Homo sapiens: one gene and its partners. The protein of the gene in region 3 interacts with the protein of the main gene of each other region in a pairwise test. Each region holds a gene or a part of one and is shown on either strand. Other genes may lie near its edges. The genes, in order: ZNF280C, H4C13 and CBX5.

Region 1 (3,753 bases), on a different chromosome or scaffold from region 3:
AGTGTGTGGATTCTGCAATCTAGTATCTTAGTCAAATGAGGATAAAATTAGAAAAGAAATGTGAAGGTTTTAAAATCCTGTAATTATCAGTTTATTAACAAAGCATACATATACTTTTGAAGTTCATCAGATACTTTAAACTTAAATATTTCACCTCTATAGGAAACCAGTGCATACCTTGGATTGACTTCTTTAGTTTTTTTTTTTTTTTTTTTTTTTGAGACGGAGTCTGGCTCTGTTGTCCAGGCTGGAGTGCAGTGGCACAATCTTGGCTCACTGCAAGCTCCGCCTCCCGGGTTCATGCCATTCTCCTGCCTCAGCCTTCCAAGTAGCTGGGACTACAGGCGCCTGCCACCACGCCTGGCTAATTTTTTTGTATTTTTTAGTAGACAGGGTTTCACTGTGTTAGCCAGGATGGTCTCAATCTCCTGACCTCGTGATCCACCCGCCTCGGCCTCCCAAAGTGCTGGGATTATAGGCGTAAGCCACCGTGCCTGGCTACTTCTCTAGTTTTAACAACCTGTTGTGGATTTACACCTAGCCAGAACTCCTGCACATCAAAAATTATCTTCATAAAACTGGAATCATGTGCTTTCCCCATGAAATTTAGGGGGAAAGTCTCTTTTATGATGCCATTTCCCTAATACTGAGGCTCAAATTTGTAGTTATCTCTGACTTTCTTCTTACGTAAAACATTCAATATTTCAAACGTTTTATGATGTTAACGATTTATCGAGTACTTACTCTATGCCAGTCTGAGGGTTTTAGACATTATTGCCTGATCTAAATCTTATGGCAACCCAAAGAGATAGGTGCTACAATTATTACCTTTTTACAGAGGACAGAATTAGTTTCAGTAATCTACTGAGGCCAGGATCAGGTTGGAAATGGAGCCCTTTGATTCTGAAGCCCATGCTCTTAAATATGATGTGATACCACCCCACCACCTCAGCCCAGGGCATTATTAAGTAAGTCTTAACCACTACAATAGCCTTAACCAGCCTATGTGTCTCATGCAGCTACAACTCATCCTGTATACTCCTCCAAAGTGATCTTCCTTCAGCACCCTTGATTCTACTCAAAACATCAATGGCTTCCCCAATGTCTTCCAAATGAAAATTAAGCCCAAACTCCCCAGCCTTGTTTTCAAGGATTCAACAATCTGCATCTAAGTTCAAAACTATCTCCCCAGACTGATCTTTTTTTATTTTTGGAATGGAGTCCCACTCTGTCACCCAGGCTGGAGTGCAGTGGCGCGATCTCGGCTCACTGTAACCTCCACCTCCCGGGTTCAAGTGATTCTCTTGCCTCAGCCTCTGAGTAGCTGCGATTACAGGCGCACACCACCATGCCCGGCTAATTTTTTTTGCATTTTTAGTAGAGATGGGGTTTTGCCATGTTGGCCAGGTTGGTCTTAAACTCCTGACCTCAGGTGATCCACCCACCTCAGCTGCCCAAAGTGCTGGGATTACAGGCATGAGTCACCGTGCCCGGCCAACTTTGATCTTAATATAATACTATGCTATATGAACTTTGTGCTTCATCCAAATTTTACTCCTAGTTATTCATTGTCATTCCGGAGAATGTGTATAGTTTCTGCATTTTCCTTTCTGAACTTTTATTCATGTTATTTCTTCCAACTAGAATGCCCTTGTGCCTCTTCTTGTAAGTAGAAACCTTTCTCCCCTTTGAAATCTGTATCTCTCACTGCACTTACTAGAAACCTCTTTGAATTACTGTAGTTATTTATGTTCACACCTTATATCCATACCCCTTTAATAAATTGTACATTCCTTGAAGGTTGGTACAAGCCTTCTTCATCACGGTCATCTGTATAGGACTTCCTACGCTGTATTATACATGATAGGTACACAATAAATAGCTAAAGAATATTTCATTTTAACAAAATAGTAATTATGAAAAAATTGTTTATAGAAATACAAAATGCTATGTCCATACACAGATTTTTTTAAAAAAATTTTTTGAGACCGAGTCTCACTGTGGCCCATGCTGGGGTATAGTGGCGCAATCTTGGCTCACTGCAACCTCCGCCTTCCAGGTTCAAGCAATTCTCGTGCCTCAGCCTCCTGAGTAGCTGGGATGACAGGCATGCGCCACCACGCCCGGCGAATTTTTGTATTTTTAGTAGAGACGGGGTTTCACCATGTTGGCCAGGCTGGTCCTGAACTCCTGGCCTCAAGTGATCCACCCGCCTTGGCCTCCCAAAGTGCTGGGATTACAGGTGTGAGCCACTGCACCCGACCCATACACAGAATTTGATCAATTTTCTATTCAGATGTGAGATCCACTCAAGTTGAAAAAAAAGCACCTCAGATCTTTCAAATCATACAGTTAATTTAAAAACCAAGCATACAATTGAGCTTGACCATAATGTGGTAAAAATCAAATCGAAGTCTCATCTTTAGAATTAAATCTCTTTTCATTCTTATAAGCATTTTTCAGTAAAGGTAACACCTAATATATTTTACTCTTTTCTAATTCCTCGAATTCAATGCTTTAAAAATAGCATAATTTTTTTTTTTTTTTTTAGATGGAGTTTTGCTCTTTTGCACAGGCTGGAGTTAAGTGGTGCAATCTCGGCTCACTGCAACCTCTGCCCTCCGGGTTCAAGCGATTCTCCTGCCTCAGCCTCCCAAGTAGCTGGGATTACAGGTGCCTGCCACCATGCCCGGCTAATTTTGGTATTTTTAGTAGAGACAGGGTTTCGCCATGTTGGCCAGGCTGATCTCGAACTCCTGACCTCAGGTGATCCACCCGCCTCAGCCTCCCAAAGTGCTAGGATTACAGGTGTGAACCACTGCACTTGGCCTAACATGAGTATGTTTTAAAAATACAATAAAAATTTCCTCTATGAGCTGTTGGTCCAACATTATCCACATAATTCATTTTCAACATATACATTAACTTATTCAACAAATATTTACCAAGTGCCTACTATGTGCCAGGTACTATGTGCCTGGCAAACATCTGTCAACATGAGCAAAATAATTAACAAAGGAAGATGGAGTCAAAAGATAACAAAATAATGTAAAAAAACAGATGTTTAGTTGATTCTGAGCTAAATGTGTGTGGTGTAACCAATGGTAATTATCAATGCCTTTAGAAATATTCATCAATTTTTTTTCTGTACAGTAAACAACTTATATACTTTAATTCTAAAAACATTAACAATTATGAAGGCTATATATTGATTTCAAGTATTATGGTATTTTCATAAACTTACTTCTATTCAGATATGGTTGGAGAACCTTATTTTTGTTATTTTACAAACGCAAATACATGAAGGTTTCATCTTAATGCTTGGCACTACAGAGTTTAGTCAGAGATGATAGGCTATCCCTCCAACTTTGGTCCAAGGACATAATAAACAGAACTCTATCATTTCCAAAGCAGGCACTCCAACATCAAGTTTTAAAAAGTTACTGCAATATTTCAATTGAAAGAAAAAAAAAAGATCAATGATTACCTGAGAGTTCCTGAATGCTTCTTGAAAATACAAAACCGTTTACCTGGATGGTTGCTATGAGAGCTGGAGAAACACGAGACAAACAAGATTTTATTAATTTTATTATACAACACCATATTAATTTTCTGACCACATTTCAAGCCAATGCTTAATTTCTTAGTTTTGAATAAAAGATCATGATCTAAATAATAAAATTCTGTTGGTTAAAGCTATAATCTGAATTTCTGTGTCACCCCAAAATTCATGTTAAAATCTTAACCCCCAAA
Region 2 (3,266 bases), on a different chromosome or scaffold from region 3:
AAAAAAAAATCCCCCAAAAGTCTAGGATTTTTCATGCATCAAAATCCTGTTTAAATATAAGCTTGATAAATCTAAACTTGCCTTGCACTATTTTAATTACGAGGTGTCATTACTGATTTGACAAAAAGTTAAAGAACGTAAAGGAAAAGTGAAACTAGAGTAAATTTGTAAATGGAGGCATTGAAGGGGATATGAAATTCGAGCGTTGTGGTATGCCAGTATTTCTCAAATTTAAACGTACTTAATGTTTTAGAAGTTGGCCGACTTTTTCTGTAAAGGGCGATATTAAAACATTTTGGGCGTTGCGGACCACAGTGTCATAGTTACACAGCCCTCGCATTGGTAGCGGTAAAGTAATCGATACAAGATAAATGAGACCGGCTGTTTCATTATGACTTTTGCAAAAACCAGAGAGGCGTTATAGATTTGGCCGTGTATCAGAGAAGCCGGCACTTTTAACCACTAAGTAATGCTGAAAGGGGCACCGAACCTCAAACTTCAGCGACTGCTTATGTGGAATCGCTAATTTGCCAAAACTGCCATACGTTTAAGTGTTCTTAAGAAATTAACTATCTTTAGTCTACAGCTCTTTCACAGACTTCATGGGTGGCCCTGAGAAGGGCCTTTGAGGAACCGTGTAAGTAAGTAAAACACTCAGCCGCCAAAGCCATACAGGGTGCGGCCCTGGCGCTTGAGCGCGTAAACCACGTCCATGGCTGTGACTGTCTTGCGTTTGGCGTGCTCCGTGTAGGTAACTGCATCGCGGATTACATTCTCCAAAAACACTTTAAGAACTCCGCGTGTCTCCTCGTATATAAGGCCTGAGATGCGCTTAACGCCTCCACGCCGTGCCAGGCGTCGGATGGCGGGCTTGGTGATGCCCTGAATGTTGTCGCGCAGAACTTTGCGGTGGCGCTTAGCGCCTCCTTTGCCCAGACCCTTCCCGCCTTTGCCGCGCCCAGACATGTCTTGTACTAAACAAAATGCAACACGGCAAGCCTCGCAGCAGTACTTTATATAGTAATAAATCGGACCTGATTGGGAACTCTCCACACCAGCTGCATCCGGTCGGCCGATTCACAGACCTTGCGCCCTGCCCACGACTTCAGGAAAAAATGGAAAAGGGGGTACTTAAACTCCAGTTTCTAAAAATGATGCCCAGTTAAAAATTACTCAGCTCATCTTGCCCTTCTACAGTGTTTTAGGCTGACCACCGCTGCATTCCATTGTCTGGGTCTTTGCAGCCTGTTTTTCCTGTCACCTCTTAGCATCGATTGTTCTAGTGCTTTGTGGCTGCTGGAATCAAATGGCGCCATCTCTAGAGGGGTAATCACAGTCGTTTCGGGCATTTGTGAAATAGCGTGTAGAAACTGCTTCCGTACAAACTCGAAGTGATCAGCCTATGGAGTGGCTGACTGCAAAAGACGACGCCTGATGATAGCTCCAAGGTGGGATTCCTCACCTTTCTCAAATTTGGTTCTCTATTCTTTTCCTTATATTTTACTCTTTCTGTAGCTGTCCTTTCTGTTCCTTTCTCTCCCTCGCCAACCACATTTTTGGGGCAAGAACTTTCTATTTTTTTTTCCTCATTCCACCTAGAAACACTTCAGGAAGCTGTTTGAGAAAGAAAGGTGGCTTTTACCCTGTATTTCCTTAGAATTGTGAAGGTGCCGCTTGAGCTCCCTCATGTTCCTCTTTTCTGTTGAACTAGGAAATCAGCTGTGCCCAGAAACCCTGTCTTTTACATTTACAAATAAAGTGCAGGAGGAAAAGACCGAGGATGACTTTATTCCAAGAAAAAGAGTTTCAAATGGCCGGACGCGGTGGCTCACGCCTGTAATCCCAGCCAGAAGGGAGGCCGATGCATGTGGATCACAAGGTCAGGAGTTCGAGACCAGCCTGGCTAAGATGGCGAAACCCCTTCTCTACTAAAAATAAAGAAAATTGGCCTGGCGTGGTGGAGGGCGCCCATAATCCCAGCTACTCAGGAGGTTGAGGCAAGAAAATCGCTTGAACGCAGAAGGCGGAGGTTGCAGTGAGCCAAGATCGAGCCCCTGCACTCCATGCACTCCAGCCTGGGCAACAAAGTAAGAGTCCGTCTCAAAAAAAAGTTTCAAATAAATGTTGTGTGACCTTCCTGACCTAGGCTGGCTCTGCCTTGCCCTGCCTTCCAGCTATCAGATTTCGTTTCTCAGTAATGTTTACCTTTTATATTTCAAATGTGTATGATTATTTACCTCTTTAGCAAATATCTAATTTTATTCTAAAAATCAGTCTCTGCAAGTACATTATGAACTACTCTATGATTACTGTATGTGCAAAACATTACATACTCATGTTGTAATAGTTAATCAGTTTCTCACTGAGCTAGGCTGGCCTCTTTTTCCTTTTTTTTTTTTTTTTTTTTTTTTTTTTGACAGAGTTTTGGTCTTGTCACCCCAGGCTGGAGTGCAATGGTGAGTTCTCTGCTCACTGCAATCTCCCCCTCACGGGTTCAAGCGATTCTCCGCCTCCCGGATTCAAGCGATTCTTCAGCCTTAGCCTCCTAAGTAGCTGGGATTAAAGGCACCCGCCACTACGCTCGGCTAATTTTTGTATTTTTAGTAGAGACGGGGTTTTGCCGTTTTGGCCAGGCTGGTCTCGAACTCCTGACCTCACGTGATCCGCCCACTTCGGCCTCCCAAAGTGCTGGGATTACAGGCGCGAGCCACTGCTCCCGGCCTTATTTTTTGTATTTGTAGTAGAGACGGGGTTTCAGCGTGTTAGCCTGGATGGTCCCTATCTCCTGACCTGGTGATCCACCCGCCTCGGCCACCCAAAGTGGTGGGATTACAAGCGTGAGCCATCGCGCCCGGCGATTAACCTCTTTTTTGTTATTAGTTCAGGCTGTGACCCTTATGGTCTCACAACTTCTGTACCCTACAGCATTGACATCTGTGTTTTTCAGAGGTGTAAATTTTTTTTTTTTTTTTTTTTTTTTTTTTTTGAGGCAGGCTCTTGGTCTGTCACCAAGGCTGGAGTGCGATCTTCCCACCTCAGCCTCCCCAGATCCTGGGACTACAGGTGTGAGCCACCACCCATTCCCGGCTAATTTTTGTACTTCTTGTAGAGATGGGGTTCCACCATGTTGTCCAGGCTGGTCTCAAACCCCTGGGCTCAAGCAATCCACCTACCTCGGCCTTCCGACGTGCTGGGATTACAGGTGTGAGCCACCACATCCGGTCCCTACTAAATTTTCTATGTTAAATCGTTAAATCAGATACTTT
Region 3 (3,753 bases):
ATGGAAAAACAAAATGTGGTATATCCATACAAAGGAATATTATCCAACAACAATAAGCAAAATATTAAAACATGCTACAACTTGGAAGAACCCCAAAAACATTATACTAAGTGAAAGAAATAAGACACAAGATACTACATACTAATTCCATTTACATGAAATGTCTGGGAAAGACAAATTTATAGAGACAGAAAGCAGATCAGCCGGGCACGGTGGCTCACACCTGTAATCCCAGCACTCTGGGAGGCCGAGGCAGGCAGATCACTTGAGGTCAGGAGTTTGAGACCAGCCTGGCCAACACAGTGAAACCGTGTCTCTACTAAAATTACAAAAATTAGCTTGGTGTGGTGGTACACATCTGTAGTCCCAGCTACTCGGGAGGCTGAGGCAGGAGAATTGCTTGAGCCCGGGAAGGGGAGGTTGCAGTGAGCTGAGATTGTGCCACTCCTGCCTGGGCGAAAAAGCCAGACTCTGTCTCAAAAAAAAAAAAAAAAAAAAAAGCAGATCAGTGAATGCCTGGGGCTGAGGGAGGGAGTTGTAATTAACTACAAATGGGAATCAAGAGAATTTTGGGGGACACAAAAATGTTCTGAAACTGGATCATAGTGGTGGTTGCATAGCTCTATAAATTTATTCCAAATCATTTAATTGGAGCCAGGCACAGTGGCTAACGCCTGTAATCCCAGCACTTTGAGAGGCACTCAGGAGTTCGAGACCAGCCTGGTCAATATTGCAAAACCCTGTCTCCACTAAAAATACAAAAATTAGCTGGGCTTGGTGGTGCACACCTGCAGTCCCAGCTACGCAGGAGGCTAGGGCATGAGAACTGCTTGAATCTGGGAGGCTGCGGTTGTAGTGAGCCAAGACTGCACCACTGCATTCCAGTCTGGGCAACAGACTGAGACTCTATCTCAAAAAAAAACAATAATAATAATTTAATTGGGCTGGGCGCAGTGACTCACGCCTGTAATCTCAGCACTTTGGGAGGCTAAGGTGAGCAGATCACTTGAGCCCAACAGTTCAAAGACCAGCCTAAGCAACATAGCAAGACTCCTGTCTCCACAGAAGATTTAAAAATTACTCAGGCATGGTGGCTTGCACCTGTAGTCCTAGCTACTTGGGAGGCTGAAATGAGAGGATCCCTTGAGCCCAGAAGGTTGAGGCTGCAGTGAACCGTGATTGCACCACTGCACTCCCACCTGGGTAACAGAGTGAGATACCATCTCAAAAAAAAAAAAAAAAAAAAAAATCACTGAATTGTACAATTTTTTTTTTTTTTGAGATGGAGTCTCACTCTGTCTTGCAGGCTGGAGTGCAGTGGTGTGATATCGGCTCGCTGCAACCTGTCTCCTGGGTTCAAGCCATTCTTCGGCCTCAGCCTCCCCGGTAACTAGGATTACAGGCATGCGCCACCAATTTTTGTATTTTTAGTAGAGACGGGGTTTCACCATGTTGGCCAGGCTGGTCTCGAACTCCTGACCTCAAGTGATCCGCCTGCTTCGGCCACTCAAAGTGCTGGAATTATGGATGTGAGCCACCGCATCTAGCCTGAATTGTACAATTTCAATGGGTGAATGTTATGGTGTTTAAATAATACCTCGATAAAGCTATTTAAAAACCCAAAATTCAGCCAGGCACGGTGGCTCATGCGTGTAATCCCAGTACTTTGGGAGGCTGAAGCAGTCGGGCATGGTGGCACCTGCCTGTAATCCTAGCTACTCAGGAGGCTGAGGAGGGAGGATCACTTGAACCCGGGAGGCAGGAGGTTGTGGTGAGCTGAGTTCGAGCTATTGCACTCCAGCCTGGGCAACAAGAGTGAAACTCCATCTCAAAAAAAAAAAAAAAAAAAAAAGGTTTATTTAGATGGGAATGATTTGAACACATGCCATAATAACCTGACTCAAGTAGAAAGCAGAAAGACGGAAAAATCTGAGCTATTTACTCTTGACCTAAACAACTTTCTACAAAAGGAACATAATATTGAGACAAAATTTATTTCTAAATCATTTGAGCTAATATGGGAAAGTTTCTCCTTTATATCCCTTCTCTCAGCAGAAAAAAAATTCCTCGGCCGGGCACGGTGGCTCAAGTCTCTAATCCCAGCACTTTGGGAAGCAGAAGCAGGTGGATCACCTGAGGTCAGGAGGTCGAGACCATCCTGGCCAACACAGTGAAACCCCATCTCTAATAAAAATACAAAATTTAGAAGGGCGTGGTGGCGGGCGCCTGTAATCCCATCTACTCAGGAGGCTGAGGCAGGAGAATCGTTTGAACCCGGGAGAAGGAGGTTGCAGTGAGCCAAGATCACGCCATTGCACACCAGCCTGGGCAATAAGAGCAAAACTCTTGTCTCAAAAAAAGAAAAGAAGTCAAGAAAAAAAATTCCTCACACAGTAACTTTCCCCAAAACCCACAGACCATATAGTTTACCATCCCAGAGGAAATTAACATACCAATATCAAAAGGTGTACCAAGACTATTACACAAGCCGAATACACTTGGGGGTTGGGAAGAATCTGTTGATAGCTAGAAAAGCCAGTCCTATAATGCGATTATCCCTTTTCCTAACACTTTGGTACTGCTGCTTCTACTTCAGTTTCCACCCAAAAGACAACATAGTATGATTTAAAAAGAGCCTGGGTTGGCCAGGAATAGTGATTCACACCTATAATCCCAGCACTTCAAGAGGCCAAGGCAGGCAGATCGCTTGAACCCAAGAGAGCGAGACCAGCCTGGGTAACACAGTGAGACCCTGTCTCTATTTTGAAGATAAAAAAGCAGGGCGTGGTGGCTCACGCCTGTAATCCCAACACTTTGGGAGGCTGAGGTGGGCGAATCACAAGGTCAGGAGTTCGAGACCAGCCTGGCCAACATGGTGAAATGCTGTCTCTACTAAAAATACAAAAAGTTAGCTGGGCGTGGTGGCAGGCACCTGTAATCCCAGCTACTCGGGAGGCTGAGGCAGGAGAATCGCTTGAACCCGGGAGGCGGAGGTTGCAGTGAGCTGAGATCGCGCCACTGAGCTCCAGCGTGGGCGATAGTGAGAGACTCTGTCTCAAAAAAAAAAAAAAAAAAAGATAAAAATATGTAAAAATTTAAATTAAAAAAAGAATTAAAGTTTTGAAAGAGGCAAGGGTCTTGCTATGTTAACCAGACAGGAGTGCAGTGGCTATTCACAGGTACGATCCTACTAATGCTCAAAATGGGAGTTCTGACCTGCTCTGGTTCACTCCTACTTAGGCAACCTGGTGGTCCCTCACTCCTGGGAGGTCACTATATTGATGCCAAACTTAATGCAGACACCTGATCGGTTTAGTGCACTACAGCCCAAAACTCCTGGACTCAAGCAATCCTCCCACTTCAACCTCCCTAGTAGCTGGGACCACGGGTACATACCACCATGCCTGGACTCTAAATGCTTTTGTGAGAATCGAAGAGAGCACAAGAGGTAGAATTTGATCACTGTCTAGCACAAAGTAGGCATTTAGTTATAGACAATGCTGATTTGTTCCAGTCTTTTATGAAATCCAGGGCATTTCTGAAAAAGGACCAATGTTTACTTTGTCTACCCCAAACCTTACCTTTTCCCCTTTCATCTATGGTAAGGTACCAGTAGCTCAATGACAGAGAAAGAGTTTCAAGTATCTTTCAAACACCCAAATATTTCCAGTGGAAATGGGCCCAATAAACATCTTCAAAATCTTCTGGTGTTACTTTAGTTCCTATCTGTTAGTGCTCTAGAGGTCTCTCAAA

Evidence for each region.
Region 1: the proteins of CBX5 (region 3) and ZNF280C interact in binary tests that used the Homo sapiens proteins (3 or more experiments, as listed by UniProt).
Region 2: the proteins of CBX5 (region 3) and H4C13 interact in binary tests that used the Homo sapiens proteins (3 or more experiments, as listed by UniProt).

Annotation. Positions count from the first base shown.
Region 1 is NC_000023.11:130,206,166-130,209,918, forward strand, and holds part of ZNF280C (zinc finger protein 280C), read right to left. Parts: intron 3,551-3,753; coding exon 3,488-3,550; intron 1-3,487. UniProt on the Homo sapiens protein: May function as a transcription factor.
Region 2 is NC_000006.12:27,872,545-27,875,810, forward strand, and holds H4C13 (histone H4), read right to left. Parts: upstream 991-3,266; 5' UTR 967-990; coding exon 655-966; 3' UTR 604-654; downstream 1-603. UniProt on the Homo sapiens protein: Core component of nucleosome. Nucleosomes wrap and compact DNA into chromatin, limiting DNA accessibility to the cellular machineries which require DNA as a template.
Region 3 is NC_000012.12:54,252,502-54,256,254, forward strand, and holds part of CBX5 (chromobox protein homolog 5), read right to left. Parts: intron 1-3,753. UniProt on the Homo sapiens protein: Component of heterochromatin that recognizes and binds histone H3 tails methylated at 'Lys-9' (H3K9me), leading to epigenetic repression. In contrast, it is excluded from chromatin when 'Tyr-41' of histone H3 is phosphorylated (H3Y41ph).